Linked DNA regions of Homo sapiens. The protein of the gene in region 1 interacts with the protein of each later gene in a pairwise test. Each region holds a gene or a part of one and is shown in the gene's direction. Other genes may lie near its edges.

Region 1 (4,992 bases):
TCATTTTGTGTTTTTTTTGTTTTATTGAATGTCTCAAAACTTACAATTGTTTTAAAAAGGCTTCAAAGAGACAAAAAGATGTGCCTGGAAGCATCAGCGTATTAGGTTGGAACTGACGTTTTAATTATTGTGGTAGGGGCCTACGCAGGAGGGAAAGGGTGACCTGGAAGGCCTGGAAAAAATCAGGTTTCATTTCTTACCTGTACATATGCGCTATGTGAAAAATTACTCTGAATTGGGACTTGGAATTCAGTTATGGCTGCTTAGAGAATCCTTCAGTTGCTTGCCATGGTTATTGTTAAGGAAAGCTCTACAAAGTAGTGGGGCATACAAATTAGGTATGTACACCAGGTGGAGAGCAAGGTGATTGGAAAGGAGAGGTGAGTTTTGAGCTGCACTTGACTTGCTGAAGGCCCAAGGAGAACTGGGATTGTTCAAGGTCTTCTCGATGCAGGTAGAAATATAATGCCTAGTCCTTGTTCAGGTGCCCTGTGGCTCCAATGTCACAATCATCTGTTTCATTTCTTCCTTCTCAGGCAAATGAAGATGTGACACAGATTGTGGAGATTCTCCATTCTGGACCTAGTAAATGGAACTGGCTTACCCGGCGTCTGGTAGAATTTACCTCTTCAGGGAGTGTCCTCCTCTTTGTTACTAAAAAAGCCAATGCTGAAGAGCTAGCGAATAACCTTAAACAGGAGGGTCATAATCTTGGGCTGCTCCATGGGGATATGGATCAGAGTGAGAGAAACAAGGTCATTTCAGACTTTAAGAAAAAGGACATCCCAGTCCTGGTGGCCACAGATGTTGCAGGTAGAGTATGAATTTTTCAACAACATTAAGTTCCTAGGCTATAAGGGTACTCTGTCTTACTACATAAGACCTATAATATCTGAGCAGGCTGATGGAAAGACTGTTGGCCTGGCTGGCCATCCCCTCCCAAACCCCCAAGGAAGCAGCAGTTCAGCACAGGGATCACAGTCTGGAGCTCTAGATACCACTTTTCACTTAGTATTTCTCTCTAATCAAAGAATCCCTGCAGCTAGAAGTCACTCTGGGAAAAAAGGCAGTGAATGCCCTTATTGTATGTCTGAATATAGTAGATACCTTACCCTTACATTGATCTACTATACACAGCTTAGTTGGGCAACTTAACTCAGGATGAGAACAGTTTTTGGAATATAATTTCTGGATTTGTTCTGTCAAGTTTTAATAACTACCCTTAAACACTGATATTTTTTCCTAGAAAGGAGAGAACTTCTCAGCTTCATGACACATTTTAAATATATATTCCCAGTGCAAGAGAAGAGGGCATGGCAGATTACTGATGCAAAAGATAAAAGTCCCAGTCGGGCACGGTGGCTCACACCTGTAATCCCAGCATTTTGGGAGGTGGAGGCGGGCGGATCACCTGAGGTCAGGAGATCGAGACCATCCTGGCCAACATAGTGAAACCCCGTCTCTACTAAAAATACAAAAATTAGCTGGGTGTGGTGGCGCGTGCCTATAATCCCAGCTACTTGGAAAGCTGAGGCAGGAGAATTGCTTGAACCAGGGAGTCGGAGGTTGCAGTGAGCCGAGATCATGGCACTGCACTCCCGTCTGGCAACAGAGCAAGACTCCGTCTCTAAAAAATAAAAGTCCCTTACACTAGAAGGCCTAACATCATAGAATCTGTGGTGGTGACTTAACATGCCTGTATCTCAGCTCACCAAACCCATGCGCTTTGCCTAGATAAAGGAAATGTGGCTTATTAGCACTAGCATTTCTGGTTACTTTGATCTTCTGACTACAGATGAAGAATAAAAGAATTTGGTTGCTTTTTATTTCAGCCCGTGGTCTGGACATTCCTTCAATTAAGACTGTCATTAACTATGATGTGGCACGAGACATTGATACCCACACGCATAGGATTGGCCGCACAGGAAGAGCGGGTGAGAAAGGTGTGGCCTATACCCTACTCACTCCCAAGGACAGCAATTTTGCTGGTGACCTGGTCCGGAACTTGGAAGGAGCCAATCAACACGTTTCTAAGGAACTCCTAGATCTGGCAATGCAGGTGAGGGGCTGGGCACACTTTCAATTGCTCCTGGTTATAAGACCAAGACATTTTAGCAGTCCTGGAACAGATAACATAAAAACTTGACAAGAAAGTTGGGTGGCTAGGAGGATGTGGGGCTTATGAGGTACAGATAGGAATTGTGAGATACTAAAATTCATCTAGTCTTATCTGGTCTTCTTCTTTCAACAGCATCTGTTTTGAAAAGCTATTCCTTTGTGCTAAAATCTGTCGCTGTAATTTCTACCCCATAGCACACTTAGGAGTAAATTTAATCTCAAAGATGGTTACTATTCTCCTTACTGCTCTTCCCCCACAAAATTTTTCTTCTGGGAGGCTAAAAATGTGTGATGCCTTTAAAACAATATGTGTATAGTATAGTGCCCCCCCACCTTTTTTTTTTGAGACAGAATCTCACTCTATCGCCCAGGCTGCAGTGCAATGGCACGATCTCGGCTCACTGCAACCTCTGCCTCCTGGGTTCAAGCAATTCTCCTGCCTTAGCCTCCCAAGCAGTTGTGATTACAGGCGCCCACCACCACGCCTGGCCAATTTTTGTAATTTTAGTAGAGATGGGGTTTTGCCATGTTGGTCGGGCTGGTCTCGAACTCCTGACCTCAGGTGATCCGCCCGCCTCGGCCTCAACCTCCCAAAGTGCTAGGATTACAGGCGTGAGCCACCGTGCCCAGCCTGTATGGTGCCTCTTAACTGTTCCTTGCAGAGATCTCAGACCTCTGACCACACTGATTGCCCTCTTCCAGGTGTGCTCCAATCTAAAGCTAAGTGAGGCATTCTAACAAATCAAACCTGGAGTCATCTGAATCCATGCTGTCCCCAAATTACAAATGGGTTCGGAACACTTTCTGAGAGCAGAAACTGTTAAGAGTTTGTCAAATGCCTAGGCCAGCTCACACAACTGGTACAACCCAGCTGCAATGTGGCAGTGCCCAAGTTTCTGGTCCTAGGAGTAAAGGACCTGCACTGCAGGAGAGAAGAGAATAATGTTTCCTCCCCTGCTCCTGAGCACAGAGAGCTAGTCCTAAATAAACTTTTAAAACAGGACACATTTTGACTTTGGCATTTTCTTCCATTTCTTTTTGTACCTCAGGCTTTCTGTGCTCAGGACTTTGTCCAAGCCTGCTGCCCTACCTCTCAAGCACTTTATTTTGCTGGTAATATGTGATTGTCAGATAAAACTTTAACCTTCCCAGAGACATTTGCTTTTTTTTTTTTTTTTTTTTTTTCTTTTTTCTGAGATGGAGTCACACTCTATCACCCAGGCTGGAGTGCAGTGGCGCAGTCTCAGCTCACTGCAACCTCTGCGTCTCCGGTTCAAACAGTTCTCCTGCCTCAGCCTCCCAAGCAGCTGGGATTAGAGGCATGTGCCACCATGCCTGGCTAATTTTTGTATTTTTAGTAGGGACGGGGTTTCACCATGTTGGTCAGGCTGGTCTTGACTCCTGGCCTCAAGTGATCCGCCCACCTCGGCCTCCAGAGTGCTGGGATTCATAGGCGTGAGCCACCGCCCTGCATTCTTAAGAGAATGTGAGTAAATATGTTGAGTGGCAATGGTCAAGTTCAATGAAAACTTTTACGCTCTGCGGGTAAATAAAATTTTCAGTTGTGTGGCTACCATCCTTTCTGGGAGTCTGTCCCTATAGTCAGTTCTGATAAGCCTCACTTCACATAGCATTTTTCCTTTGCTTCTGAACATACCAGTTGTTTAAGTTCCAAATGTTTACGTCCAATAATACATGGTTTGAGAAATAAAATATAAGCTCATTTTCCTCAAGGAAGTTAGAAGTAGCCAAAGTTACTCCTCTGGGTTTGAAGCTTACCTGAACAACTTCCCTTCCAGGAGAGCCTTGAGGGAGGGAGCACTGTAGGAAGCCTTAGATAAGGATCTCAGCCACTTTTCAAATTTGGTGGATTATGCTACCAAAGAGAAACCAATCTGTGGTTCCTGTGAAAATTCCTCCCTTAGCGTAGTGCTGGCTGAAAATTAAGCAAAAGTTCCCCCTTCCCACTTAATTTCCTCTTTGTCCTCGTTCTCTTCTTCTGTTCTTTTCTCCCTCCCTTGACTTAACCTTGAATTTTGTTCAATGCAGAATGCCTGGTTTCGGAAATCTCGATTCAAAGGAGGGAAAGGAAAAAAGCTGAACATTGGTGGAGGAGGCCTAGGCTACAGGGAGCGGCCTGGCCTGGGCTCTGAGAACATGGTGAGTCTAGACTACTACAGTAGTGCCTTTATAGTTGGTCTCATGTCCTGAAAGTCATTAGGAATATTCTCATCTACCCAGGAAAGCCTCAGTGAGTTTAAAGCCCTGTCTAGAAGGGAATTTGTATTTAATCTGATTTGAGTCAATGCAGTGCTCATTCTTATGGTAACTTTCTATTGAAGAAGCATCTTTGTGTACTTGGTTGACTAGGCTTGCTCAGGAAATTATTCTAGATTAGCAGTGATCTCACACTGTGGTCCCTGGACCAGCAGCACATGCAAACTCATCCCCAACCCCAGACCTTGTGAATCAGAAACTCTGGAGTTGGGGCCCAGCAGTCTGGTTTTATAAGCCCTTCAACACTGGCCTAAAGCCTGCTGCTAGGTAAATGTTGCCAAAGGGTCACTGTAAAGTCTAGCCATATCTTGTCATTAAACTCAGGAACGGATCAGGAATTTCCAAGTCGGGAGCTAGTTTTTCTCACAAACCAGGTAACAAATGTACCCTTTTGGTGGCCTTTCTTAACTGCCTGTTTTCTGTCACCTTGATTCCAAGCCAGGGAAGAAAGCTGCCAGTATACTTTTCTGGAGCATTAAACTTGGCATCTTTGTAATTACATACTCTGTTCCCACATTATAATAATAATGATGATGATGCATAATAATAGGTAATATTTATTGAGCACTTTATATGTGCCAGGACCATTCCAAGCAA
Region 2 (4,992 bases), on another chromosome or scaffold:
TACATCCTTTGTTTGGTTTGGTAATGAAGCATCTGATGAAGTGGGCCCCTGAAAAAATCTTTGTTAGTATAGGTATTACTTTAACAAACTAAGGCAATATATAATACATGATTTACTTTGTCACCTCTCTTCCCCCAAATTTTGTAACTCTTGACCATGTCTTAATTGCCTGGTACTATGCTAGAAGTATAGAAATCATTAAACTAGGCTGGGCATGGTAGCTCATCGGTAATCCCAGCACGTTGGGAGGCTGAAGCAAGAGATTGCTTGATCCCAGGAGTTGAAAACCATCCTGGGCAACATGGTGAGACCCTTATCTCTACAAAAATAAGAAATTAGCGAGGCGTGGTGGTGCATGCCTGTAGTCCCAGTTACTCGGGAGGCTGAGGTGAGAGGACCACTTGAACCCAGAAGTTTGATATTGCAGTGAGCCATGATCCAGTGAGCCACTGCACTCCAACCCGGGTAATGGAGCAAGATCCTATCTCAAAAAAAAGGAAGTTGTTTCAATTATATTTTTTGTCATCTCCTCCTTCCCCCATGGTTGAGTGAATACTAGAAACATGAATCCTTTTTGTTCAGACCAGATGTTCTTTAAGAGTTCTTTTCTAGCTGTATGATCCATGATCTTTAAGGTGTCAAGTATTTGAACCATTTGTGAGTACAGTGCTTCTTACTTTGCTGGGCACATTTCTGTGTACTCTTATTATAAACTACACCTCGTTGGCATTTTGGAGCAATGTAAACACTTAATTAACAGTCACCTTAGGCCAGAAGCAGGAGAAGCAAAGATAGTTGATGGCATATTTCAGAAGATAGGTCCAGACTCTCAAGTATTGAATTGTGAGACTTCATTTTATGTTTATTAAGTTATCCTTTGACTTTTCTTTCCCATTGATTTTCTTTCTGTTTATGCCAGGTGAAATGAGAGGCTTCATACAGTTCTGGCTTGTATGCTCTGTGATTTTTGTAGAAGGTGAACATTGGGATGGAAGAGGGGAAAATCACTTTTCATGTTTATATATGCATATATATGGCTTTTCCCCTTTTTGAGTAAATTTGTACATGTCACACAACTGCACTTGGAGCACAGGGAATTTGTACTTTTGTGTATTGTGGGTAAGGAACAATGACATGTTTCGGGGCTTGTGTCATAGCTCCGTCATGTCTCATTATTTCAAGTCTGGGTTTAAAGATCTTGAGGCAAATTTCTCTGCTGATGGACTTGGTCTGAAGTAAACTGGATTAGTAAAATGAACAAGCATAGATTATTTTATTTTATTCCCACCACCAGTCTCCCAGAGGCTGCTTTCAGCCACAACGCATATGAACAACCTGCAGCCATTCTGCTTGTGAAGTTCTTAGCATAGATACTTTTAAAATGACTTATTAAGGTCAATCTCTAGTAACTGGAAGTAGATACCAGCATTGACTACTTAAAATTGACCCAGGTTTAATAGAGTGGCTACCTGCATAATTTTAACATGTTAAACAACTTAATAGTGTTTAGCAAAGCTTATTTTTAATTTGGCTATGTTTCATTTTATGGTAGACCAAGGTACATAGATTTATAGAGTGCTTTCAGTGTTTTGCTGTTGCTGTTTAGGTTAAAATGCAAGAGTAAACAAGCAAGAAGGAATAAAAGTTTTAATTTCAGTTTTTTTAATAAAGCAATATACATTTACTGAACAAAATTGGGAAAGTGCTGGAAAGTATAACTAAGAAAACAAATTCTGCAGTCCTGTAATTCGTATTTGTATTAGTTGAGATATTGACAGGTATAACATTGTACTATGCTCTTTTCACTTTGCATTACAACCGAACATCGTCCTATGGCAAAGAAAGGAATATTAAAGTAATTTATTAGAAGTGGATTATAAAAGTATTGAGCAAAACCCACCACTGTTGACTGTAATGATGTGAGGTGGAGTTGTCTTTATCTCCAGTAGCAGTGTTTGTGCTAACTTCTGAATATACTTTTAGTGCACAAAATACCTCTTCACAAATTGAAGGAGAATTTGAGAAAGATTGAGATGCCATCTTCTTTTACTCAATTTGGACCTATCCTTTCTTCATCCTACCCTCAGTATCTGATTTCTGTTGTCTAAGTAGGAGGGGTTTTACTTGCAGCAGACTGAGTTCTTGTGTTACCTCACCTAATGTTAAAAGTTAAGGAAGGTGGGGCATCAGCAAGGAAGGGAAAGATGTTTGTGGTGGAGAATGGGAAACCCTTGATTGTAGGGTATTTTTTATTATTTCTGATAGTTACATAATCCATTGGACTTTTTATTCATTTGAACGTTGGACATTTACTCTCTTTGTGATTATAACGCTACCGTGAACATTCTGCATAAAATTCAGAATCTGAATTCTAAATTTTTGTTTTTAGGAAGGATCGAGATCGAGACCGGGATCGTGAAGATCGGTCTAAAGATCGAGACCGAGAACGTGATAGAGGAGATAGAGAGCGAGAGAGGGAGAAAGAAAAGGAGAAGGAGTTGCGAGCTTCAACAAATGCTATGCTTATCAGTGCTGGATTACCACCTTTGAAAGCTTCCCATTCAGCTCACTCAACCCACTCAGCACATTCAACGCATTCAACACATTCTGCTCATTCAACGCATGCCGGACATGCAGGTCACACGTCACTTCCACAGTGCATTAATCCGTTCACCAACTTACCCCATACTCCTCGATACTATGATATTCTAAAGAAACGTCTTCAGCTCCCTGTTTGGGAATACAAGGATAGGTTTACAGATATTCTGGTTAGACATCAGTCCTTTGTACTGGTTGGTGAGACTGGGTCTGGTAAAACAACACAGGTGAGTTATTGTATACCATGGTACATATTTCATTTATGTTTAAGTTTACCAAATGTTGCATATTTGATTCTGGTGGTCATTTCCCTTGTCTGTCCTATAGAACATCTTGAAGAATAGCTGATTTGATGTTTAATTGGCACTCTGAATTTCAGAGTGGAAATCCTATAGAGAATACCTCTCCCCTGAATCTAGGGGAAAATAGTGGTGCTCGCTTTTCAAATTTTGTTACCTTATGTATGGCAGAGGTATTTTGACTCCCGGACAGTACAGATTTAGGGACCCACAGTTTGTTTTCTGGTACTTGGGTGGAGAAATCACTGGGGTAGATTTTTGTCGTTTGTATTTAATATGGTATTTTGAACCATGCAAAAAATGAAATGCCAAAGTAATATAAAGTCTATACCGGTGACTTTTGTCCATCTAGTCGTCCTCCCTCCCATAGAACTAAACACTGTTACTAGTGTGTTATTTGTAATATAGCTAGGATATTTTTTAAACATGGATGGGCTATTATTAACTAGACCCCTGTTGATAGACATTTAGACTGTTTCCCATGGTTGTTTTGCATGGGTCAAGTGTTTCTGTAGGAAGCAGAAATTGCTGGGTCAGAAGATCATTTGTAATTGTGATACAGAAAGCTGGATAGCCTTCCAGAGGGAGCGTATCAATTTACCTTTCCATGAGCATGTAGGAGAACACGTGGGAAACTATTAAAACGTGAATTTTTACAAATCCAATAGGTGAAAAATTGCATTCTAATGTACTTTTTAATTTGCATTTTCTTGCTGTGGGTGAGAAGTAACTGTCTTTATACACTTAAGCCTGAACCATCAATTAAAAATTTCTGGTTTCAAAAGTAGCAGTCCCTGATCATTGTAGAAACTTTGAAAAATTCAGGAAAGTATTGAAGTGAATTACCTGTCTTACCATGCAGAGATTGAACATACCGCATACACAATTTATCTTTTTCTAAAGTTACATGTGCATGGAGACATTTTGAAGGTACTGTAGCAACCAAAATAGGAAGCTTTTATTATAGACTGAGCCTTAGTACCATTCTTCTTTTCTTTTCTTTTTTTTTTTTTTAATTTTTGTGTTGTTGTTGAGACAGTCTTTCACCCATGCTGGAGTGCAGTGGTATGAACACAGCGTCAACCTCCTGAGCTGAAGCGATCCTCCTGCCTCAGCCTCCCAAGTAGCTGGGATCACAGGCATATGCCACCAGTGCCTGGCTAATTTTTAAATAAAATTTTTGTAGAGTTGAGGTTTTGAACTCCTGAGCTAAAGCAATCCTCCTGCCTTAGCCTTGCCAATTTTTCTTTTTTAATGAAGGAAAACTTAGAATTGATGTTAGGGTATTCAAAAATCACCTTACGGAAATTTTAAGAATTTTCAAACTACAAGAAAGACTGTAACTCTGAACTTACTATTTAATTGATATTTGGGTAAAGCCAGACACTGTATACTTTACATGTATTAGCTCATTTACGTTTTTCTATAACCCTGCAGGAAGATATTCATCACCACTTTACAGATGAGCAAAATGAGGTTTAAGTTTATGAGAAACTTAGGTTTAGTGGATTGTCCTGGGTTACATGGATTATGGATTTTGGTGGGCTCAATATTTAAAACTTTGTACCTTTTGTCTTTATATCTAAAGTTTTATATTTCATACTGCTATTCTGTGGTCTGATTATGGGTAGCCTCATTTCAGAGATGAGTTTATTAATGGTTAGTGTAGAAGGAGGTCAGGTCAACTCAAGATGAGGTTTGTGATTATTTGGATTAATATTTAACTTTTAGAGGGGTAATTAAGATACTTGGATACTGAGGATTGCAGCACATCTGGGGGATTTGAAGGGAAACCAAACAGTTTAAAAAGTGAATTTCATTCAAATGTTTCCTAGCATGCTCTTATTAAACTTTGACTCAAACCATTAAAGCCAGTCTTTTTTTGGTGATTTGTTCTTGTCAGAAAAATTCTCTAAACAAAATCTAAAGTAATGACTTTAACTTTTTTTTTTTTTTTTTTTTTTTGAGACAAAGTCTCGCTCTGTCACCCAAGCTGGAGTGCAGTGGTATGATCTTGGCTTTCTGCAACCTCCTCCTCCTGGGTTCAAGTGATTCTCCTGCCTCAGCCTCCTGAGTAGCTGGGACTACAAGCGCG

Evidence for each region. The genes of interacting proteins can lie anywhere in the genome.
Region 2: the proteins of DDX42 (region 1) and DHX15 interact in a two-hybrid assay, tested with the Homo sapiens proteins (one large-scale study listed by BioGRID and IntAct).

What each region holds. Positions count from the first base shown.
Region 1 is NC_000017.11:63,811,396-63,816,387, forward strand, and holds part of DDX42 (ATP-dependent RNA helicase DDX42), read left to right. Parts: intron 1-536; coding exon 537-813; intron 814-1,832; coding exon 1,833-2,059; intron 2,060-4,167; coding exon 4,168-4,278; intron 4,279-4,992. UniProt on the Homo sapiens protein: ATP-dependent RNA helicase that binds to partially double-stranded RNAs (dsRNAs) in order to unwind RNA secondary structures. Unwinding is promoted in the presence of single-strand binding proteins.
Region 2 is NC_000004.12:24,574,076-24,579,067, reverse strand, and holds part of DHX15 (ATP-dependent RNA helicase DHX15), read left to right. Parts: intron 1-2,389; coding exon 2,390-2,825; intron 2,826-4,992.